6 separate regions of the Homo sapiens genome follow, and regions 1, 2, 4, 5 and 6 are each reported to be linked to region 3. Evidence: microRNA targets listed by miRTarBase, many of them from high-throughput screens and not tested one by one. Region 3 holds a microRNA gene; each other region holds the end of a gene's coding sequence.

Region 1 (4,109 bases), not on the chromosome of region 3:
CCAATGAACATCTGAAACGTGGTCTCTGCCCTAGTAATGCAGGAAATGTAAACCAGTGAGAGATCTCACACCCATCAACTTTGTTTTAAAAACAAAATTTTTAAACACTGACAGTACCCTACTGTCCTTGAGGAAGTGAAGAGATGAGAATCCTCGTACACTGCCGGCGAACTCTGGAGATTAATTTGACAAAACCTAGTAAAGCTGCAATGTGCCAGGTCGGTGCAGTGGCTCACACCTGTAATCGCAGCACTTTGGGAGACCAAGACAGGCAAATCGCTTGAGCCCAGGCATTTGAGACCAGCCTGGGCAACATGATGAAACCTGGTCTCTACAAAAAAATACACAAAGTAGAATCCAATTTAAATTATATTCAGTTAAGTCAAGGATGTCCATGAAAAGAACATATAAATATGCTAATAGGAGGAAATGGTATAATAAAAATATTAATCCAAAAGAGGCAAGAAACAAGAGAAAAGGGTAGGTAAAATGCCCTGGTCATGGAGAAAATGAATGGTTCAGCTGTAGATGTGAATCCAAACACATAAATAATCATATTAAATGTAACTGGGTTACATATTCCAACTAAGAGACTATGTTTAAAGAAAATCTATATGCTGTTATGAGAAAAATACAAAAGGATTAATACGGATGGAAATGATGTATTATGCAAATACTAACCAAAAGTAACTAATATAGCTACATTAATATATAAAATAAGGTAATAAAGCTTTGGTTGAGACTCATTATGAAGGACATTTCATAATAGAAGGGTCAATCTACCACAAAGACGTAACAATTCTAAATTTATGTTCACTTAGTAAACTAACTTCAAAATAAAAGATTGACATAAAAGATATGCAAATCTACATTCATATCATAATATTCTATCACTTCTCAGGAACTGGTAAGAGCCAGGGAAGAAATCTATAATGATCTAGATCTGTAAAACATGATTAAATTTGACCTAATACACCAAATAAAAAGCATCCAGTAAGGATAGAAACATATTCTTTTCAAGTAGACGTGTTATTTCTCAAAATTGACCATATAGTGGGGTCAAAATGGATGTCTCAATTTCAAATGTATGTTTAATGATAATGTAACATTATGCTGGAGTCAACATAACCAGAAAGTTTTCAAATGTTTGGAAATTAAGCAATACATTGCTAAATAACTCACAGGTTAAAGAAAAAAATCAGAATGCAAACTAGAAAGCATTTTGAAATGAATGATAATAAAAATACAGCATATAGCCTTAAAATGAAGATATTAGAAAACAACTAAAAATCAATTTTCCAAGCAATCGTCTCAAGAAATTAAAAAGTCGAGCAAATTATAGCCAAAGAAAGGTTGGGCGTGGTGACTCATGCCGGTAATCCCAGTACTTTGGGAGGCCAAGGCGGGCGGATCGCTTTGAGCCTCGGAGTTTGAGATGAGCCTGGGCAACATGGAGAAAGCCCATCTCTACAAAAAATACAAAAAAAAAAAAGTTAGCTGGGCATGGTGGCATGTGCCTGTCAGTCGCAGCTCTGCAGTGAACTGTGATGATCGTACCACTGTACTCCAGCCTGGGCAATAGACTGATAGTGAGACTCTCTCTCAAAAGAAAAAAAAATATAGAAAAAATGAGGAGCAAGAACAAATAATATAAAACTATTTGAGCCTTGAAAGTAACTTTTAAAACATATAAGTAAAAAGTGTTTTTGACACTTTTAATAATACACTGCAAGAACTCCCCCTCATGTAAACTAAGGGAAGTGTGTGCTTTGTTTTGTTCAAAACTTTAAAAGCAGAGCATGACTCCTAGTAAAATCTCATCGCCAGCAGCAAACTATTCATGGTACCATCTCCATGTGTAGTTACCATTGTTAGTGACTCTATATACTGGAGCAAACATCTGACTATTCCATTATATTATTTTCATGATGTAGTTGTACCTGAGCATTTGCATATTGAAAAATTTATTTTATTATAAATCACTTTCATTTTTCTTTTATAATAGGGGATTATGGTCTATATCATAACATACTCAATGTAAAGTTATATTTAGATATATTATGAATTTCATGATGGTAAAGGGGAAATCTCAAAATACTTTTAAGAAAGTATCATGTTTGACAGTTGACAATCTCTGGATTTGATGACTGTTAAGGTCCTTCTCAGCCTTAACAGTCTGAGATTTTTTTGTAACCATTACTTCCAACAATAGCTTTGTTCTATTTTGAAACTAGTGTGTGGCAGGCACTGTAAGTGGAACAGTATCTCATTTAAATCTAATCACCCTTATAATAGGTAGTGTTACTGTAACTAACTGTTTATATGAGAAAACAAATTCAGAGAAGTTAAATAATGTGTTCAAGTTCACATACCTAGGTAGAGCTGGACTGACTCCAAACTCATGTTCGTTTCACTCACGAAAAGAACATTAACATAACATACATTACTTTACCTAGAAGAGTTAAACACTATCAGTCAACAAGTGAGGTTAGGCTAATGTAAGCATCTGTAAGAAAGAGTCTCTACCCACCACAGCAAGAAAGAGGAGAAGATGGAATGTATAAATATAGTAGGCACCTTTTTAAAGTCAGGACCAATTAATCATGTAAGGTAGTTATAAATGGATGACATCTAAAAATATATCAGAATAAGTTTCAAGCCATGCAAAATTCACCAAAACAATTTTTATTTCCAGTGTTTAATTGGGTATGCACACAGGCATGACACAGGTTTGGATTCATTAAGTCCTCATGCAGAATTATATTCTTCTCGATAAAGAAGCCAGTTCCATCCAGGATCCACTATCTACACACCTATGTTACAACATTATATCAAATCTGGTATCTGAAGAAAAGATACACATTTAATATGTTCATTTAAGTTACGTATTTTACAGAAAGATTAAAAATTCAAGTCACACAAAACTCAAAAACTGTATTAAAAGTTTGAATATAAAACTCAGATCCACCTGGAATGACTAAAGAATGGAAGTTCTGTATCCACCTGTGTTAAAACTGGTAAATGTAATGATATCTGTTACCAATAAAACGCATTCGTTTATTCAATGTAAGTAAGTTATCTAATTTTAACAATATGGCACCCTAAAAACCAACTGTATTTTTATGATGAGGCACTTTTGTTAGTGATGAAACCAAAAGAACAAATTTGCTGCACACTGATGCCAGCGATTTTCTTCAGTGATTTTGGGTATATGCTATGTAGTAAGTTGCAACAAATACCTTGCTCATTTGTATACAACTATCCGATATATTTTTAAATATATATATATATATATATGTTCTTCTGGCTGTAGTAATGCACTGTAAAGCTATTTCACAGTGCAAAATGATGAAACCAGCCCAAATGAAGGCTGCATAATAACAATTCTGATACAAGAAAATATTGACAGAGTTACTGGAACGTGTAACAGTAGTTTTTTTACTTGCTAGAGTGGACATACCCCCAGTTTAAAGACAGGGATGAAACTCTGCTTTACTGCCTGGGGTTTCAGACAGTTTATGAGGTTGGGCATTCGCTGCAGAACTAGCATTTTTGCTCACGTTCTGGAAGCTTTCTCCGTTTATTTGGTCAGGTGACTGTGGTGGTATGGAAAGAAGGGGCCTGTTTGTTGAAGCCAAGGTGCTGGAAGAACTGCCTGTGTTGCAATGAAGAGACAAAGGTGTGTCGGTCGTGGCTATTTCTCGTGTGCTTGGGTTCTCTGTCTGGGGATCTCCGATTTCTCCTCTGCTAAGGTCAGAGGTACTGGTGCGTAGGCGTTCCCTGGCCAGCCAGTCTGAGATGGAAAGGTCCTGGGCTGAGCATTTTGGTTTTAACCGGTTTACAGCTGAAAGTTCAGATTCTCTCTCCCCGCTCTGCTCATGCACTTTCCAAAAATTCAAAACGCTGATTTCGGTAGCATCTCTGTGCCCTCCTAGTGTATGTCTGCGCCGGATGCTTTTCCTTTTAGCAGTCTCGGCATTCACTTTGTGATTCCCTACTCCAAACATGTCATCCGCAGGGGCTCTGGGTCTCAGTTTTAACCGATCTGCTATTTTCGTTTTCCATGTGGGTTCCTGTTTTTCGGATTCGCCTCTGGTGGGTGTCAGTAA
Region 2 (4,109 bases), not on the chromosome of region 3:
TGTATTTTTAGTAGAGACAGGGTTTCTCTATGTTGGCCAGGCTGGTCTCAAACTCCCGACCTCAGGTGATCTGCCTGCCTCAGCCTCCCAAAGTGCTGGGATTACAGGCATGAGCCACCGTGCCTGGCGAACTTATGCATAAATCTATCAAAAGGATGTCTCTAATAATTAAAAGGACTGTGCTCAGACAGAAAGCCCTGAAAAAAATGGCACTAACCAATGCATTGTCTCTCCCTTCATCCTCTTCTCATTCACAGTTTGCTATGCCAAAAATTTTGGCCCCACGGGTATTGGGTTTGGAGGCCTTACACAACAAGTGGAAAAGAAAGAATGAAGAGGTGCGCCGTTTCTCAGATTTTTTGCGAGCCTAAAACACTTGCCAAGTAATCCTGCACAGATCGATACCTTTCCCCAAATAGCCTCTCCTTTGTAGTCGTACATTATGTGTTTCTCCTCAGAAGTGATCAGGTCTTTACTGAATGTTAGAAGAGGCCTTTGGAAGAAAATTATGTAAAGTTTAATCTATAACAAATGCTTTATTATTTATAATGCTTGGAATGGGAGAGGCAATAAATAAATGTTTTAGTGCTATCTTGTATGGCTCTAGATCTTTTCTTTGAGATAGAAATTTTCAAAAACATAAAGCTAGTTCAAAAAACGAGTTGCAGAGCATATAATAAATTTGGATGTCAACTGAGAAAGGAGTGAGAAGGAAGAAACAATGCGCAAAGGAAAGCAGTCTTTCAGAATCTGTCAGCCAAGTGTCTTTCTAGTTACTGCTAATGGAGAAGAAAACAGGGGGTCTGGGAGAAAATAGAGAACATGATAGCAAAATCTAAAAGGAAAATCAAAACTAATAAAATTGCTGAAGAGTTGATCCCTTTGTCCTATCGTGGGGCTTTGTAATGTTACACATCTCGTGAAAACTCAGAAATGACAATAAAGCGTGGCATTTGCCTCTGTATTATAAATGACATGAGGATGATTTTCTTTTATTCTAGGACAATTCCCTGGGGTTTAGCAATTTTCTTAAGACTTCTACGTCAAATTTGCCAGCCTTGCAAATGAAATGCAGCCAATTAGAAATGTCTTTCTCTGCCTCTTCAGCAAGTTTCAGCAGCTCAAGCACTTCTTGGGCTTCTGCTTTTAACAACCACAGCACTTCCCCCAGCACTGTGCAATTCTGAATTATCTGGAATACATGAAACAAGTGAAAATCTAGTGATAAGAACTATAAAATACTTGGCTAAACCATGGGTTTCTCCACCCTCCAAGTCCCCTGGGAAAGGCTTTCTTTGAAATGAGCATCTATTCAGTGCTGTTTATGTAGTGTCTTGGACAAGGCCCTACATGAGCTTTAAAAGCAGTACACGATCTTGGCACTATGCATGGGATTTCCAGGTTTGCTGAGGGGTAACACATATTTGAGAAATGACCACAGGACAATGCAACCTCCTCCTCCTCTGCTGCATTTCACAGTGACTCGCCCCACCGTCCAGCTACCCAGGAAATCTGAAGCTAAAAACTTTAGCCATCCTTAGCTTTGCTCTCTTCCTCACCTGACCTTGCCTCACTTCTCAAGTCTCCTGGATTCTGACTCCAAATGTCTCTAGAATACATCCCCTCCATCCCTCTTTTTAGGATGTGTAATAGTCTGTTAGGGTTGCCATAAGAAAGTACCACAGGCTGAGTGACTTAATAGAAACGTATCGTCTCACATTTCTGGAGGCTGAAGTCTGAGATCAAGGTGTCAGCAGTGTTAGTTTCTTCTGACACCACTCTCATTGGCTTGGAGATGGGTGTCTTCTCCCTTTGTCTTCACATGGTTTTTGCTCTGTGGGTGTCTGTGGTCTAATCTCCACTTCTTGGAAGGACACCAGTCATATTGGATTAGGGACCACCTGAATGACCTCACTGTAACTTAATTACCTTTTTCAAGGCCCTTATCTACACATGCAGCCATCACATTCTGAGGTACTGGGGGTTAGGACTTCAACAAATAAATTTTGCAGAGACACAGTTCAGCCCATAACAGTGTATCACATAAAGACTTTCACAAATTGGCCTTGGCCTTACCCCTTCAACTTAGCTTTAGACAATCTCTTCCAGACAAGTTCCAGCTACACTCAAAGACTCGGAGCTTTCCAAACATGCCCAGAACCCTCACCCCATCATGTCTTTGCTAATGCTGTTCCTTCTGCCTAGAATTCCTGGAAGATGGGAACCTCCCCCCATCTCTACCCACTAATCCAACTTCTTAGCCTGGTGAACTCCTATTAAGCAAGTCACAGGTCAAATGCCATCTCCTCTGGAAATTGTTCCTGAACTACCTGGGCAGAATTAATCTACCTCTGTACTCCCATAGCCGGTATGTAATTAGCATAGTACTTATGTCATCGTATTGAAATTTTGAATTCCTATTTGCCTCCTTGTAAGAATGTGACATGTCAAGCCATTCACAGTGCTTGACACATAGAAGACACCTAATAAACATTTGTTGAGTGAATGAAATAGGGGAGAGTATAGGCCAGGCTAAATGCAAATTCTGCTAGAATCTAAAAGTTTATTACATAGTGGACTGAATGAGTTTAGAAAAAAACAAAACAAAGGAAGAAGCTTATTGTGGTTCAGCAATAGTTGTATTTCCCTTCCACTTCTTGGGTATGCTGTTCCACTACATTTCCCAGGCTCCCTTGCTGTTCACTGAGACACATGAGTGAGTTTGCCCAATGAAGTCCTGGCCTCCATGACCTTTCAGGAGAGTCTCCATTCTTTCCATATGTCTGGATGCAGAAGTCCAGTGGATACTGAGGCCCTAGGAATGGTGGAGCCACTAGATGGGAAGCAGCTTGAGTCACTGCATGGAAGAACACCTGCTAACAGCTAAACAGACCATGACATGAGAAAGAAACATTGTGTGAAGCCACTGAGATTGGGAGGATATTTATTATTGCATGAGCTCCCATGACTACTACACACCTGAAATATAGACTGTGCTACATCCAAGTGATTCCACTCATGGTGCCAGCGTCCATCCTAAGTCACAGGGGGCATGATCAAGATTTTGCCTGATATTTGTGAAAGAGATTCAAATTTGTTGTCTCCAATGTGGCTATATACATATTTGAAGAAAGGAATAAAGTTATGGCAAAATAGCATAACAGTCACATTCCCCTGGCCCTGAAAAACATGATTGGGTTTGTCTTGGATTTAAAATAAAACAAAGACTAAACCTTGCTATTATGCCACAAGCTACTGCCGTCTCCTCTCTCCTTTCAGAGCCAAGCTGTAAGACTAGATTCCACTTAGTCCTTAGTCTTTTAGACTCTTTAGTCTTCCTTGCCTCTACTCTCCATCCTCAACCACCACTAATAACTGAGGCCACTAATAACCTCTTTTTTTTTTTTTTTTTGAGATGGAGTCTCTCTCTGTTGCACAGGCTAGAGTGCAATGGCACTATCTCAGCTCACTGCAACCTCTGCCTCCTGGGTTCAAGCGATTCTCTTGCCTCAGCTTCCTGAGTAGCTGGGATTACAGGTGTGTACCACCATGCCTGGCTAATTTTTGTATTTTTAGTAGAGATGGGGTTTCCACCATGTTGGCCAGCCTGGTCTCGAACTCCTGGCCTAAAGTGATTTGCCAATCCCCACCGCGCCCGGCCCTACTAATAACCTCTTAATCACAAACTCTTTTGTCTTTCATCAGCTATTCTCAACTTCTGCTCAAGCTGCTCCTTAGTTCCTGCCAACTGACTGCTTCCTCTCTGAAATGAATCCTCTCTTGATTCTATGACACTATTATTATTATTATTATTATTATTTTGAGGTGGAGTTTCCCTCTTGTTGCCCAGGCTGGAGTGCAGTGACACAATCTCAGCTCACCGCAACCTCCACCTCCCAGGTTCAAGCGATTCTCCTGCCTCAGCCTCCCGAGTAGCAGGGATTACGGGAATGTGCCACCACACCCAGCTCATTTTGTATTTTTAGTAGAGATGGGGTTTCTCCATGTTGGTCAGGCTGGTCTCAAACTCCCGACCTCAGGTGATCTGCCCACCTCGGCCTCCCAAAGTGCTAGGATTACAGGAGTGGCACTGTGTCTGGCTGACACTA
Region 3 (4,109 bases):
CGTGTTGGAAGTTTATGGCCTAGCGGAAACGCTTCAATCTAGTAGACCCCGGCAAGGGTAAATATTAGTGCCCTCGCTTCTGGCCACTGAACAAAGGTGATAGCATCTTGCCCATGGTGACTCAAGATTTCCTAGAAATACAGTCACACAGCACATGGCCTCCTGTTTCTGGCTTCTTTCGCTCAGCATGGATCTGAGGTTCATCTGTGTGGCTGCAGGACTCAGTGCTTCATTCCTTTTTATGGCTGAATAGTTAGTATTCCACTGTGTGAACAGATCACATTTTGTTTACCTATTAATTGCTTCATGGACATTTGGGTTGCATCCATACTTTGGCTATTATGAATAATGCTGCTATGAACATTCATAGGAATTGCATATGAAGGCTGCAGGTGAACAAGCTTTTGTATGAACATACGATTTCAATCCTCTTGGGTATATCTGACATATTTTTAAAAGGTTCTTTAGCTGGGGGACTACTGCAATTATCCAGAACAAATCCCATTCATTAGGTTCCTACTAGGGTTAAGGATTTGTTCTTCTCTCCTTCCTATTACCTCCCTTTTCCTTGATTAAAATATTTACTGACAATTTAACAGAAAACAGTAGCTCTCAATAAGTGACATGAAAATAGACTATAAAAAACTAGTCTAGATTTTCTACTGGCCTCTCTGGAGGGAAAGTAGCTGAGTAAGGAAGAACAGCTATTACATGGTGGGACTGTCCCACACAAGAGGTTTTAAAATGCAGGGTGGTGTGGGAAAGACAAAGATTCCCACAAGCACGTATCTGACTTTAGTCCCCAGGGCAGGGGCAGTTAAATTGATTCACAAACTTGCAACAAAAATCTCAATCGCACACCAAGCTGGGAAGCATTTATTTGTCAGTTAAACTAGTTAACACTTCCTTCTTTGCTACTGGAGCTCATCCAACTTTATGAAGTCCAAAGTTTCAAAATATCACTCTGTGGTGTTCACTAAAACAACTAATTACTGGCATCCAAGTAAGTTAGTAAGGAAATAAAGACAGAAAGCTAGTATTTTTAAAACATAAAAGGAAATGAATTATCATGAATGTTTTAAAAAAATAGCTTTGTGACTAGGCTTCTGCTCCAGAACGCGTAGATAAAGCCACACCATAACTAGAAGGGGAATGGCCAAGAGGAAGACATGCAGAGCATGCCTGCGTGCACCCACCTGCCATGCAAAGATAAGTGGAAGAGCAGGAGGCAGGGAAACAAAGAGAACACGGAGCCGGGCGCGGTGGCACGTGTATGTCTGTAGTCCTAACTACTCAGGAGGACTGCTTTAGCCTGGAAGTTGGGGAGTGGGGGAGAGAAGGAAGAGAGGGAGGGAGAAGAATGCAGAAAGAAAAGAGAGAGAGGAGAGAAAGCAAGCAAGCAAGAGAGAACGAGTGAGGGAAGGAAGAAAGGGAGGGAGGGAAAGAAAAGAAGGAAGGGAGAGAGAGCGAAAGAAAGAAGGAAGAAAGAAGGGGGAGAGAGAACATGAGTTCAAATTGGGCATACTGAGGCTGAAGGAACAAAACATTCTAGAAGTAGTTGGAAATATGGTCTGTAAAATGGCAAGAATCAACCGAAGCTAAGCATGTGGAAACCATGGGAATGGATAACTGAAGTAATGGCAGTGGCTGAGAATAATAAAGGGCAGAAGATGAAAAGGCAAGAAATACAGACTCCGGAAACATCCACATTAAAAAAAAAAAGGTAAAAATAATAACAGGGAATACGACAACCCAGGAAATAAAAAAAGGGGGGAAACCAATGTAATACAAAAACAAAGGGAAGAGATGTTTAAAGGAAGAGGAGGTGATATTTATCTTCAACAAGAAAAATTATACTCCATTGTTTATTTCTACAATAAAGTTAAAATTATTTCCTGGTTATAAAGGTATAAATAATGTCAAAAGTTATGTGAAAGTTAACAAATATGACAACTGACACAAATGATACGATGCTTTGGAGGTCAGTGGTTAAGTGAGAAGTGGGATTCATTTCTGGAGAGTGGATGGAGTCAAACACAAGAAAGCAAGGGGCCCAGACTTCTCTTTGCACAGCTATAGACTTAGTTATTTCAGAATTGGAGTACATTTGCAAGCTGGGAGAAACCCCTGCAGAGAAGTAAGGCAGATGACTGAGGCAACGATGGAGACAGGGTAGACGGAATCAAGAGCTTAGAAACTGTTGACGTTGCCATGTCTAAGAAGAAAATTTTTCTCCAAAGTTTTCTTCTTAGACATGGCAGCTTCAGCAGTTTCTTCCAAAGAAATCCAAGTCAAGAGACTCCACATTAAGATTTTGAAATCAAAAGGGATATTGGGTGCACTCTTTCCAGAGAAATATAACTTTCTGAAAGCAAAAAATCCTTGAATGTGAAGAGAACAAAAATCCGTGAAAACCATGAGGTAGTCAAAAGGAGAAAAATAAAAGAACTGCTCCACACAGACTTGGCTCGGCTGAAATGAAATGGCCTGGCTTGGCTGCAGAAGGCAGTCAGCATTGATCTTACGATGTTCTCCACTGCTAAGGAAGGGAGAAAACAAACAGGGTTGCCAAGGGCTGAGGAAAGGCAGGGCAGGAACAGAACAGCCCAGCACTGGGATGGGCAGACCCCGGGGCTGGGGCAGACAAGAGCTGCAGAAGGCCCTGCAAGCTGCAGAAGGGCCAAGGAAAGAGAGATTAGAAATCAGCCAAAAACACAGGTTTAGAGCGAGTGAGGAGGAGGGAGAACCAGAGTCAGCTATATGGTGTGGGCGAGCCAGTGCCATTTCCAGATGAACTTCAAGGTGGTAAAAGCAGAGCACTGGACCCAGCACAGGACCTCGAACCAAGCACAGGATCCCAGACCAAGCACAGGACCCCGAACCAAGCACAGGACCCCGTACAGGAGAACAAGATCCCCCCAAGCCTCCACAAAGGACTGCAGCCCTGCCAACACCTTGATTTCAGCTGAGTAAGACCCATTTCAGACTTCTCAAATGTAAGAGAAGAAATCTGTGGTGTTTTAAGCCACCAAGTTTGTGGCCCTGCCTGAGAGCAGCCACAGGGAGCAAACACACCTTCTTAAGAGCGAGAGTGCCGTTACCACACAAAGCTGAGCACTAGCTTTCTTGTTTGCTATGCTTTCTCAGAAGTTGGCTTCAAAGTATTCATTTAATTTCTACTTCTTTGATTATGAGAAAGAATAAACATTTGTTCAAGTGTGTGGGTCATTTGTATCTCTTGAATTTCTTATTCATGCCCTTTTCCCATTTTTCTAGTTTATGTCTTTTCTAATTATGAAGCACTTTTGTAATATTAAGTATATTAATATCCTATATTATAAAATATTATTAGCTTGCCATTTGCCAACTAAATTTGTTCATATGATGTTTGAGACATAAAAATAATTTTTATTCAGTTAAGTCTACAAAGAAAAAAATTGCTTTGTAGCTTATTCCCTTTGTTCTCCTGTTTTGAAAGAACTCTCAAATCTCTACAATCGCCAGTGTTATTCACCCTATGAATAACATGGAAATTCTAGGTATCTGGTTTGCCATTATAGACACATCATTAAATTTCTGTTTTCTTTTAAGAGAGTTCAAAAAGCTTAAGTATGTCACCTTCGCTAGCAACTATGGTTTTAACCATGGCAATTAAAAAAAAAAAACCACCATAGGGGCTTACTTTAATGGGTCCAGGTGGCAGATTAAGATACATTTAATTCCACATCCCTTATAACCATTAGAAAGCCAAATACCTAAAACAAGTCTAAGGAAAATTAGTTAAAACAAAACCCTTCGAACAGCTGAGAAAAGTTTAAATATTACCACAGTGCCTGCACTTCTGCAGGACCCCATCTGAACAGCTTCTTCCTCCATGTCTAAGTTTCCTATAAGAGGTATGCAACTGCTATCAATTTGTTCTTTTTGTGAATAAAACTTAGGCAAAAAAACTGAATGATGGAGTTACCAAGACAAGAAATATGAGTGTATGCATGGAAGGATAAATTCTATCTTCAATATGCTGAGTTTGAGACATCCTTTTGGGCCAGTCAAGCGAAGCTCTCTAATGGACAATTGTACAAATGGGTCCAGAGTTAGGCAGAGAGACA
Region 4 (4,092 bases), not on the chromosome of region 3:
TACAGTGCAAGCAGCACTGACCTTAGCTTTTAGGATCCAGCATATCCAAAGAGCCCAAAACTGTCATGGCTGGTCAGAATGTTGTGTAAAGGCTACAGCAAGGCTCTACAGGAGAATCACAGTTGAGAACCATAAAATTTTGGAGCAAAACTATGTTCTCTTCAAGTAACTTTTCTTTTTCACTGAACACTTGAACATGGCCCACCAGAGACCTGAGCTGTTCCCCATGAACTGGAAGCTGTCTGATCCACAAAGCAAAAATTCATAATATATTGAGGATTATTCCATCATTAAGTGGAAGTGATTTGCAGGAGGTCTCACTCCAGAATGGTCTGAAAGCAATGGTAAGTTGAATAAACAATGAATAGCTCATATTCTGCTGCTCTTTTACCTCTCTGTTTCAACCAGCAACTATGACCTGGTGGTGAGTTCCCTATGACCAACTGACAGAGGAGGAAAAAACAGTCTATCCTGGTTTAAATATGCCCTCACATCAGCTGAGGGTGACAATTGCAGCACCTCAACCACATTCAGGAATCCCTGGAGGATTGTGACAGAGATGGGTATTCCCAGTGGTCCACTTTGACTGGAAGATGAGATGTCCAGAGGTGAGGCTTTACTCTGATTCATGAGCAGTGGCTAGTGTTTGGAGCTGTATGGTCAGGAATTTGGAAAGAATAAAACTGCAAGATTAGGCAAGAATCATATTGTTGGACCTCTTTGAATGGATCCAGAGTATGAGAATATTTGTGTCTTATGAGAATACTCACCCAAGGCCTTACTGAGGAAGATCTCAGGAATCAGGAGGCTGTGATCATCTGCTCTGGCTGAATGTCAGGCAGCCTCTTTCTCCAGTTACTCCAGCAATTGCTCAAAGGGCTCATTAATGAAGCGGCCTTGGTGGAAGGTGCAGAGTTTATGGAAGGATTCAGTAACATAAGGATGTACTCACCCAGGCCAGTCTGACCACTGCTAAGTGCCCAATTGACATACACAGAGGCCAAACCTGAGCCTCTGATGGAGTCAGCTCCTCAGGGGCCTGTGTACTCTGTGGTTGTGGATTATTTGCATTGGATCCTTTCCATCATGGAGAGGGCAATGATTTTCCTTACTGAAATAGTTGATTCATTCATTCAAAAATATCGATTAAACACCTACTATGTACCAGGCAGAGTTCTAGGTACTTGGGGTATATCAATGAACAAAGAGAACACAGTTTGTTGCCCTTAAGAAATCTAGTTTTTAGAGAGATGATATGCAGTAAGTGTAGTAAATCGGCAACGTTTGTTTCAAAGTATGTTTGAAAGTGATAAGCGCTATGGAAAGAAAGCAAATCAGGGTAATGGAGACTGGAGGTGCCAAAGATGGGGGGAAGTAGTTTCCAGATTTACATGTGCCTCAAAGCCTTGAGTCACCAGGGCAGACCTCAAAGCCTTGGTGGATATCAGGGAGGAAGAGCATTCTAAGCAGAGAGCAGCCCATGCAAAGGCCTCAAACAGGCATTTACCTGATGTGTGCAAGAAGCAGTGCAGAAGGCAGCGCTTCCTCAGTGAAGTGCTAAGGGGAAGAATGGCAGAAGACTGGAGGCAATGGGAGCGATCAGGTGGAGGCTTGTGGGCACTTAGGGCATCTGGCTTTCACTGTAAGAGAGATGGGGAGGCACTGCAGGGTTTTGAGCACAGTGACCGCAGTGCTGAGAATGGGCTGTGGGGACGAAAGGGAAAAAGAAGGGAGACACGAAGCCACCACTGTAACGGAAGTGAGCAGCACCTCAGACAAGAGTAGAATAATGGAGTGGTATAACGAGGTGGTCTTCTGGGTGTAGATATTTTAACTCTTTATTATGGAAAATTAAAACTTGCAAAAGTAAAGAATAGTATAAGCCTCCTCTTCTTCCCATAATGTACCCTTCACTCAGCTCCAGAAATGGTGCACATATGACTGATCCTGCTACATCTATACCTACCCACTTCCTACCCACCCTCACCTCATCGGGTTATTTCAAACCAAATCACATCATTTCATCTACTAATTTCATGTACGCCGAATTTACGTTAATAAGCTTTAATCTAATACTTCAGTATAAGCGCTGAAAGTGAATATCCTTTTGCTTTTATAAAAACATCACTACAATAAACTATCACTTATATCCAAAACACACAACAATTTCTTAATATTAGTATACAAATTTTTCTTAGTATTTCGTAGGTAGTTTTATTTTTTCTTAATTTGAGTCAGGATCCAAACAAGACCCACACATTCCTTTTGGTCGACATGTCTCGTCTCATTTAATTTATATGTCTTCTATTTTTCTTTTTCTCTTTTTTTGGGGGTGATACATGTGACAAATTCATACACTCATATAATTTGTAAAGATCAAATCAGCGTAGTTGGGATATCTGTCACCTTAAATATTCGTCTTTTCTTTATGTTGAAAATATTCTAATTACTTTTCTTCATTTTTCTTTTCTTCTCTCTCCCTTTCTTCCTCCCTCTCTTCTTTTTATTTCATTTTTTTCCCATTTATTTGTTATAGAAGCCAGGTGATTTGCCCTATAGAACTTTTTCTCAGTTTATGTTTTGCTGGTTGCAATCCCATAATGTTATTTAAACAAATTCCTTTTCTCCATGCATTTTCTATAAAACAAGTATTCAGTTAGAAAGACTTGAATGGATTCAGTTTTAACACTTGGGGCATGGATAATTTGTAGGTGGTATTGTACACTTCCATCAGGAGACCTCTAATATTTGGCTGCTGGTTTTTGTCAATTATTTAACCAGTAGGTGTATCATGAAATATCCATACAAATTTGTGGCTTCCTATTTCTTTTATTCCTTCTTCATTTATTGCAAGAATTATTCTCATATAAACTAATTAGTAACTCAAAGACACAGTTCCTACAAGAAAAGCAACCTTATTTCCTTTGAGAAGGGAATGGTATTTAGAGAATAAAACCTCTCTGCAAGGAGTGCTTATTGCTAAGGGGTTGGTAATTATTTCAGTGAACAGACGTAGGAAATATTTATCTTTTTTTAAAGGCAGAGTTTATTATGAGTTTATACTAATATTTTAAGTTCAAATTTAGTTTTGGAGAGTTGGTACTTAAGTTTTTAATTTTATATTTGTGTCTCTTTTCTCTAATGTTGCAAATCTTTGTCACTAATGACATTAACATAATTATCATTTGCTTTTGGAAGCGCAGCCTAGAGCTTGCATCTCCAGCTCTTCTGATGTCCTCTTTTAAATTCCTCTCTCTGTAAACCATTCCAGATGGGTTCTTTAATCTGCAACTGAATCCTGACAGTGTAAGCTGTGCAGGCAGAAGTGAAGGGGCTTTTCATTGTTTGCACAGTGCCTGTGCAGCCACTCACAGTTAAACAAACTGATGCAAGTGAGTCTCCAGTGAGACAATGGTTGTAGATGTATTAAGCAGAGATCCAGGTCACCCAGTCTTTTTCATCTCTGCAAATCCCAATTCACCAAAATTTGTGCTTCTGTTTTTCATAACAGTCCTTCTCTCTCTTTATCCCCCTTCTCTAAAGCAGACCCTAGGGAATACATTAGGTCAGGCCCACAGCAAATACTACAGGGTCTTCTCTTAACTGTGGATCCTGGTCATTTTAGTGAAGTCTTTCAGAGGCCATTCCATCCCAACATCAGAGTAGACGAATGAGTATTCCTGGGAGTGAATGCATATGCATGAGAAGAATTAGAAAGCTGGAATGAGTTGATCATTCCAGGGGCCGCAAGGACTGCACTGGGCCTGGGACTTTGGACAAGGGAGAAATCACATGAGTAGGACGTTCTCGTAACTTTTCATTCTCTTAACTTTCTTCATCCTTAGAGCTGATCTTTCCAGCTGAGTTATCTGGGTGTTGTGTCTTTACCTCAGAGTAGACAACTGAGACATCCTGAAATGGAAGAAAGAAGTGGAAACCGAGAGGGAGTGTGAGGCTGCAGGTAATGGTGGAGATAAAACTGTGGGGAAATGAAACTCACCTTATCCTCTAGAAGTGTCCTGGAGGTATTAGCTGTGGACAGAAAGAGAATCACTGGACTATGGGCATAATGATGCACTTAGAACTCAGTCT
Region 5 (4,000 bases), not on the chromosome of region 3:
CTGTTTTCAGACAGTGGTTTGAAAAGTACTTTGTGCCACAGGTACAGAAGCATTTGAAATCCAAGGGACTTTTAGAAAAAGCAGTGCTTCTTTTAGATTTCCCCCCAGCACGTCCAAATGAAGAAATGTTGAGTTCAGATGATGGCAGAATAATTGTGAAGTATTTGCCACCAAATGTCACAAGTCTGATTCAACCAATGAGCCAGGGAGTTCTAGCCACTGTAAAAAGATACTATCGAGCAGGACTTCTCCAGAAATACATGGATGAAGGAAATGACCCAAAAATATTTTGGAAGAACTTGACAGTGTTGGATGCAATTTATGAAGTGTCAAGAGCTTGGAACATGGTAAAATCAAGTACCATAACCAAAGCATGGAAAAAACTTTTCCCTGGCAATGAAGAGAATTCAGGTATGAACATTGATGAAGGAGCCATTTTAGCAGCTAATTTAGCAACAGTTTTACAGAACACAGAAGAATGTGAACATGTTGACATTGAGAATATTGATCAGTGGTTCGACTCTCGGAGCAGTGACTCAAGCTGTCAGGTGCTGACTGACAGTGAAAGTGCTGAGGACCAGACCAAGGCTGCTGAGCAAAAGCCTTCCAGTAAGAGTAGAAAAACAGAACTGAATCCAGAGAAGCATATTAGCCATAAAGCGGCACTTGAATGGACTGAAAATTTACTGGATTATCTTGAACAACAAGATGACATGCTTCTGTCTGATAAATTGGTATTAAGGAGGCTTCGGACCATAATAAGAAAAAAACAGAAGATCCAAAATAACAAAAATCATTAATAAGGCTCTTAAGTATTTCAGTGTATCTGCATCTTTGTGACTATCTGCAGTGAAACTTTGCTTGTTTGAAGTCCTGTGGATTCCAAAGCCAAATACATTTTATAAATGATTTTGGAATTAGATGTCAGTTTGGATTACTTAAATTACAACTCTTTAATGTTGACTCTAGTCATTGGGCATTGACGTGTAACTTGTCTTTCTACTGTTTCTAATATCTATTAATTAGATCATAAGGTACCTGAGGCCAGGGATCTTGTGTCTGTTGTGCCTGAATTTGGCGTGTCTAATAAAGGCCCATGCACACTATAGGCACTCAATAAAACTTACATTTTTATGATTTTTCTTTGAAGTTGAACTTCCAAATTGAAATATGTTGGGGGTAAGTTTCCATTTCCGCAGCTTTTCCACTGCTGAAAAGAAGAGTTCAGCAAAAATTGCGCTTGAAGTATTTCACTGCGACTGCAGAGAACTGAAGGAAAATAGTCTAAAGCCTTAAATATTGCATTTCTGTACTAGCAGTATTTGGGCAATTAGCAATTCAGATCAACCATCTCTTGAGAATAGTAAAGGAAGAGAAGTATGATTTAAATGTCCCAGAAAAAGGATTTGCACTTCATTTTTTTTTTTCCATCTGATAAGAGGGAGTGTTCCTAAATAGTTGTGGAAAGAATCCCATTCCTGTTCCAGGAAAATAGATTTCAGTTCCCAAACCATTGCAGTTAGAAGAGGTAAGCGTTACATTTTATCATCTGTCTTTTGGGTTCTTTATAGATGCCAGTAGTATTTCTCTTTAATAAGCTATTTGACGTTTATGTAACATTTGAAAGCTTACAAAGTATGTATGTCATTTGCTTTCATACAGCATTTTTTGTGAAAACCAATACTGAGAATATAAGCATACATCTAATTTGTGGAACCAGCAGATGAACAGTAGACTAACATAAAGTAGAACACGAAGAGAGGCAGTAGAGGAGTGCAGCTGCTGTGTGACCATCGGCAAATTACTTAACCCCCGCATCTGTTAAATACAAGTAATACCTGCCTCAGAGTTTTGTGAGGTGTAAACGAGTTGACATATGGATTTTAAATAATAGGGGCTTATAATAGGGCCTGGCACAGAATAACATTGAATGTTAGCTGTTACTCCCATTGTGGATATTGAGTTTCAGTAGTATGCTAAACAGATCCAATGTGTTACTCAAAGTAGGGTTGCTGCATTTGGAAAACCCTTCCAAGGAAGTGAGATAAAAGAGATACAAGTGGCCAGGCGCGGTGGCTCACGCCTGTAATCCCAGCACTTTGGGAGGCCAAGGCAGGTGGATCACTTGAGGTCAGGAGTTCAAGACCAGTCTGGCCAACATGGTGAAACCCCGTCTCTACTAAAAACAGAAAAAATTAGCGGGGCATGGTGGCATGCGCCTGTAATGCCAGCTACTCAGGAGGCTGAGGCAGAAGAATCACTTGAACCCAGGAGGCAGAGGTTGCAGTGAGCTGTGATCACGCCACTGCACTCCAGCCTGAAACTCCGCCTCAGAAAGAAAAGAAAGAAAAAAAGATACAAGTAATTAGTTTCAGCAGAAATGCAATAATGATTTCTTTCATTGAAAACTGAAGGGTTACTCTAATTGAAAAATCACTTACCACCCCCTGGTAGGCTTTGTGATGTATGCAGGCATTTAAGATATCTTAGGTGGAGTTATAACAGGAAATGAGAATGGAATTGTAATTTCTTTGGTCCAGTTCTGTTAGCACTTTGCTAATAAAAAGATGTTGGCTTTATTCATAGAAGAAAATCTTAATATTGGCATAATAATAAAATACCTTTACAGTGGATAATATAGCAATAAGCAAGACACCTGGAATATTTTATCTAACTAAAGTAATACGGGATAAGTAGAAAAAGCAAAAGAAATGTCATGGGAGACAGTGGTTATAGTAATTAGGCCCAGCTATATATAGGGAGCTTGTCATTTGGTTTGAGGGGAATTTAGAGCCCACATCTGATTATTTTCTTTCGTGAGGATTATCATCAGTGTCTTCAGCTGAGCCTCTGGATTCTAGAATAGCTTTTTCAGAAGACCTCTCAGAATATACTTTCTTTGGATAATTCATACATCATTATTAAAACACTTTCCTCAGTTTACACTGTTTCACCTACCTGATAGCCTTGAGGAAATACAACCCTGCAAGATAAGTCCTGAGGCTATTTGGCTTCCTGGAGACCAAGGATTCTAAAACTTGATAAGGGTAATGACTTACATTTGAACACTGCTTTGCATTTTCACATTGCTTTTTGCTAACACAAACTTAAACTTTGTTCAGTCATGACACTGAACTGGTTTAGTCTCATGTTGTATCATTAATCGTAATATAAATTATGCATTCTCATTCCGCATTTCATTGCAATACAAAAATCTTAACCTCCTTGAGATATTGTAATAGTTCCTCTAGAAAGACACATCATGGTAATCTTGGTTAACACTTGCCCCTTATGTGTACCCTAGTTTGAAAAGCAGACATATGTACTCTCATTTGACTTTGTACACCTTAAAGGAAATACCTACAAATTCTGATTATTGGTTAATAATTCTGACTATTGGTTAATTTTAAAAATGTATATGTTTTTTAGAGGAACCTGAGAGACTAACAGAACTCAGACTAAATGGACAAAGTATTTGGCAACTAAGCATGCTTTTTTCACAAAACTGCAGTGTGAATATTTACTATTTCATAATTCAGTCTCAGTAATACAGGGGTTGGTTGGAGAACTGGGCGCTAAATAAATATAGAGTTGGCAGGCCAGGATCAGAAGCCGTAGTCAATTTAAGCAGAATGATAGGGAGGACCCTGCACTCCAAAATTAGATTTATTCAGGAGGGCTGTGTTCACGTATCACCTTAATATTTTCACAAATTGACTTTTTTTTTTTTAATATACACACTATATATGTTAAGCAATGATATCTACAGAATTGCAGGTCTCATGTGCCAACTGGGGTCTTTGTCTAATTCAAGTTAAACATAAGAATTCTTATTTTTAAACTTGCCAAACTAAAACTTAAAATCAATTTTGTATACCTCATCTGCACACTTTAGAAACACTAGCCAAGCAGAAGGAGTAGGGTTGTTGAAGGTTAACAGATTGGAATGCAAACTCCAGCTTCTCCACTCTTTATATAGTTAACCTTAGCAGCATTCTGG
Region 6 (4,091 bases), not on the chromosome of region 3:
TTAATTATCAAAGATGATGAAGACGTTCGAGAAAACATCATTCGCTACGATGATGAAGGAGGAGGGGAGGAGGACACAGAGGCTTTTGACATTGCAACTTTACAAAATCCAGATGGAATTAATGGATTTTTACCCCGTAAGGATATTAAACCAGATTTGCAGTTTATGCCAAGGCAAGGGCTTGCTCCAGTTCCAAATGGTGTTGATGTCGATGAATTTATAAATGTAAGGCTGCATGAGGCAGATAATGATCCCACGGCCCCGCCATATGACTCCATTCAGATATATGGCTATGAAGGCCGAGGGTCAGTGGCTGGCTCCCTCAGCTCCTTGGAGTCCACCACATCAGACTCAGACCAGAATTTTGACTACCTCAGTGACTGGGGTCCCCGCTTTAAGAGACTGGGCGAACTCTACTCTGTTGGTGAAAGTGACAAAGAAACTTGACAGTGGATTATAAATAAATCACTGGAACTGAGCATTCTGTAATATTCTAGGGTCACTCCCCTTAGATACAACCAATGTGGCTATTTGTTTTAGAGGCAAGTTTAGCACCAGTCATCTATAAACTCAACCACATTTTAATGTTGAACCAAAAAAAGATAATAAAATAAAAAAGTATATGTTAGGAGGTTATAAATCTTGTGGAGTGTGAATTAAGTATGTGGAGTGTCTAGAAGTCCTTGGATATTTGATATTTACCTGACCACCACAGACAAAGATTGGGATCCTGGCTAATCCTTAGATAAATGGTTTAAATAGAGGAAAAAATCATAATTAAAAGGTGCTTTCTTAGAAAAAAAAATACGGACCTGCAAGGAATCTGCTGCTGATATGTGTCTTCTGCAAGGATTTTTATGAATGCAAATGGTTTTTTCCCCTTCACCAATAAGGATCCCGCCACAAATGATAAAGCAATACTTGGTCTGCTGTACATTATAACTTTTTGGAGTTTTGAGAGGCCTCCTAGATTATACAGTACGGTGACCACACATTGTACATAATTGTTGGCCCCACTCACTAGAGACTGAATAGCATCTTTAAATATTGTGTCGAGCCTTAAAATATTCACATGTTCGTAATCCATTCCAGGGTGGGGCTTGCCAATTCAGTGGTGGGAGGAGAGAAATCCCATTCAAACATGCTTGTTTTCTAGAAGCAGGATTCCTCGTTCCCTCCTCTTCATCTTCTTCCACAAGGACACAAAGATAAACTGTATCACACAGTGGACTACATAAGAGACAGATGGTTTTATTGCTAGCGCGTGAATTTATTTGTTTAATCCTCGAAATAAATATTTTATTGATGTCCATTAATGCTTTTATTTATTAAGGTCGGTAATCTATAGATTAAGGGGATATATGGGAAAAAACTAAATTATATCCATTAATAATCCTTTAGATTGTTTTATATAAATATATATACAATGAATGTTTAATACATGTACATTTTGATGAGATGAGTATGGCAGGCAATATTATCGAAAGGAGAGCTAATAGTCTCTTTAGAGTAGAAAGTGTTATTGTAACTGGAGATGGCAGGAACAGCATCTTCCCAGACAAACTTTTGGACTGTTTTCTATTTTGTTCATAATCCTAGTATTTGGTGTTTTTACTACAAGCACAAACATCCTAAAGTATATTGATTCCTGTGAATATTTAAACTCTAGACTTTTAGATACCTACATCATGCCCTGCCCAATAAACATGCTTCAATTTACCCCCACAGTTTTAGAGCAGGAACTGATTTGTACATAATTTCACTGTTTACGTTTTTAGCACTCCTATCCCTGATCTTCATGGTGATGCACAGAATGTCTTAGACTCCAAAAAGGAACAGCACTAGAAGATGTGAGCATATTTAATTTGTAATGCAAACCTGCCATTTAGGAGTAGAAAATGTATGATAAAACTCAAGTATTACATGCAGATCATTTTAATTTTCTACTTTGCTTTAATGCAATATTGTTTATTCACTCCATGTATTGTATTCAGAGAAACTCCTGTATTGTTTCCTACTTTGTGAAATATATTTTTATAAATACCTTTGTTGTCATTAATTTTTTTTTCAATCAGTGGAAGATCTATTAACAGAATCATCAACTCAAACTAAAATTCTAGAATACTCAACCAAATCATCCCAAGGGTCACTTTTGTTTGTAAGACTCTTTATTATAGAGAAACAGAGAAGAGAAATGGCTTGCCAGTGATCACACAGCAAGATACCAGCAGGGACATAAGAGGAACATGGAACACCTAAAGGCTAGTCCAGCTGTGTCATTTGGGTCCTTCTGGAAGCAGACGCATTGGGCAGGGAAAACCTTCAGACAAGTTTGCAGACCTAAAACTTGTAACAATAGAGGGATTGGGAGCAGGATTTGGCAAGAGAGTCTTAGACTGCAGTGCGGACCTGGCAAAATCTCTGCCAGTCTGACAGGGGGTTCTAGAGTGAAAACACATCCATTAAAGCAGTCAGGCTGTGGTCCTCTGTCATCTCAGTCATTGGTGCGGGGCTGCTAAGAAGAGAACGGTTTTTGACTCAAAAGCTGAACGCACCAACTTCTAGAGGCCACCTTCACTGTGACAGAAACTGCATGTTTAAATACTATACTAACAATTTATAACTATCCGGTGGCTTAATCAACTTTTTATTGAGTTTCTGTTGCTGAGAATAAGTCATCTTTTATGCGTATTATTACGGCTAGTGAACACTTTTTCTTGAGGTCAAAGGGATGGTCCAACATGACTTTAAAATATACTAGGACTTGGCACAGTGTCTAAAACAAGTGCTTGGTGAATGTAAATTATTAGTAGTAGTTGCAGTAATAACCAATAGTAATATTCCAACTATCTTACACCTTCCAAACCAAGGAGAGATTATTATGTTTTATGTATCTCTTGAACACCAGACTCATTTCTAGTGTACTTTGAAGTGCCCAAAGATTATAGACACACAAATATGTCTAACAGAATAATTACAGTATTTTTTAAGGAGTATAAAATCTGTATCCTCAAATATTGGTAATCAACAGGATAATCTTCGTACAGTGGTTTCTGTGAGCAGGAGATAATGTCTGCTCTACTAGTTGCCCAAATATCGCCTAAGTATTCTCTTTGCCTAGGAACACAGAATGAAAGCTTGCATCTCTTGCTGACTTTCTTTGCCACCACAGTGTCAGCATTTTGTGTTTAAAAGCCTATTTCAGGTCTTGTAACATAGAATAAAGTGACTAATACCTTGATCCTAATAAGATTGACCTATACTTTTAGAGTGTCATGAATTAAACTAAAAATCTCAGGAACTATCTCTCTCTTTCTCTCTTTCTCTCTCTCTCTCTCTCTCTCTCTCACACACACACACACACACACACACACACACACACAACAAACAAATAAAAAACACACATTTTGACTTGAAGTTTTACTTTAGCAATAGACTTGCCAGGACTTTCCCAACCAAAAGATATCAATAAGGTTCCTAACATTTTCTAAGATTTAAGTATCCCATGCTCAATTTGTTAAATAACACATTTTAAAAACTTTATTGAAATGACTATATTTTTAAAGCTATGTGCATTGTTGTCTGTTTCATCAACATTGACATAGCAGAAACAAGAGTACTCTCTGCTAAATAGAGAAGAATGATTAAGTTGGAGCCAAGTGAGACAAAGTTATCTCCCTCTGCCTACCTCACAATTCAAGGTTCCCACCTAGGGAACTGATGCATCCCTGGGTGATTGGACACAACATGGGATCAATTCAGCCTCTACTCTGCCTATGATTTGATCAAATCATATTAGCAAAGTGTCTCTTAAACATCCATATATGAATATTAAAGAGTATTAAGGGGGGCATTTCTTAACAATATTTTTATGAGTATAGTTATAAGTTTCTAAACATTTATAATACGATGACTAAAATATGCTATTTTTAAATTCAAGTGTTAACCTTGCCACACAGAATTATGACTTCTAGGGTGTAAACTTTAAAGTGAAACTGTTTTGAAAAAAATCTGCAGTTAAGTGTATGTGTATATATAGAAGAAAAGGAAACTTAGATTTACTGGTATCACCAGTGAAGCAAGAATGCTTA

The links. The annotated mature microRNA hsa-miR-4659b-3p reads UUUCUUCUUAGACAUGGCAGCU and lies in region 3 at 2,242-2,263, shown strand. An mRNA with a match to its seed (bases 2 to 7 or 8) in the 3' UTR can be bound and repressed. Matches are read on the target gene's strand: a 7mer-m8 pairs with bases 2 to 8, a 7mer-A1 pairs with bases 2 to 7 and ends in A, and an 8mer does both.
Region 1: the mRNA of ARHGAP21 is a reported target of hsa-miR-4659b-3p. Seed matches in the 3' UTR shown: 7mer-m8 at 3,299-3,305, 7mer-A1 at 3,190-3,196 and 7mer-m8 at 2,764-2,770.
Region 2: miRTarBase lists CSRP3 as a target of hsa-miR-4659b-3p. Seed matches in the 3' UTR shown: 7mer-A1 at 499-505, 7mer-A1 at 713-719 and 8mer at 787-794.
Region 4: miRTarBase lists FCRL4 as a target of hsa-miR-4659b-3p. Seed matches in the 3' UTR shown: 7mer-A1 at 2,482-2,488, 8mer at 2,467-2,474 and 7mer-A1 at 2,452-2,458.
Region 5: miRTarBase lists TIGD2 as a target of hsa-miR-4659b-3p. The part of its 3' UTR that is shown has no 7-base or 8-base seed match.
Region 6: the mRNA of CDH8 is a reported target of hsa-miR-4659b-3p. Seed matches in the 3' UTR shown: 7mer-m8 at 3,635-3,641 and 8mer at 4,038-4,045.

Annotation. Positions count from the first base shown.
Region 1 is chr10:24,580,945-24,585,053 of GRCh38, forward strand. ARHGAP21 (Rho GTPase activating protein 21) reads right to left here. Exons shown (of 26, transcript NM_020824.4): 26 at 2,670-4,109. The coding sequence ends at 3,468. Among named protein-coding and RNA genes, the nearest start is that of ARHGAP21, 140 kb to the right of the region's middle.
Region 2 is chr11:19,178,895-19,183,003 of GRCh38, reverse strand. CSRP3 (cysteine and glycine rich protein 3) reads left to right here. Exons shown (of 6, transcript NM_003476.5): 6 at 258-974. The coding sequence ends at 334. Among named protein-coding and RNA genes, the nearest start is that of CSRP3-AS1, 16 kb to the left of the region's middle.
Region 3 is chr8:6,743,329-6,747,437 of GRCh38, reverse strand. MIR4659B (microRNA 4659b) reads left to right here and starts at 2,198; the gene lies at 2,198-2,270. All of the region lies in intron 5 of AGPAT5 (1-acylglycerol-3-phosphate O-acyltransferase 5), which reads right to left. It overlaps MIR4659A (microRNA 4659a), which reads right to left and starts at 2,274; the gene lies at 2,194-2,274. RefSeq lists enhancers at 36-330, 932-981, 2,594-2,673, 2,704-2,983 and a silencer at 1,122-1,171.
Region 4 is chr1:157,571,699-157,575,790 of GRCh38, forward strand. It overlaps FCRL4 (Fc receptor like 4), which reads right to left. Exons shown (of 12, transcript NM_031282.3): 11 at 4,001-4,032; 12 at 2,049-3,912. The coding sequence ends at 3,826. Among named protein-coding and RNA genes, the nearest start is that of FCRL5, 21 kb to the left of the region's middle.
Region 5 is chr4:89,113,753-89,117,752 of GRCh38, forward strand. It overlaps TIGD2 (tigger transposable element derived 2), which reads left to right. Exons shown (of 2, transcript NM_145715.3): 2 at 1-1,149. The coding sequence ends at 800. Among named protein-coding and RNA genes, the nearest start is that of TIGD2, 4.2 kb to the left of the region's middle.
Region 6 is chr16:61,649,964-61,654,054 of GRCh38, reverse strand. CDH8 (cadherin 8) reads left to right here. Exons shown (of 12, transcript NM_001796.5): 12 at 1-4,091. The coding sequence ends at 447. Among named protein-coding and RNA genes, the nearest start is that of CDH8-AS1, 270 kb to the left of the region's middle.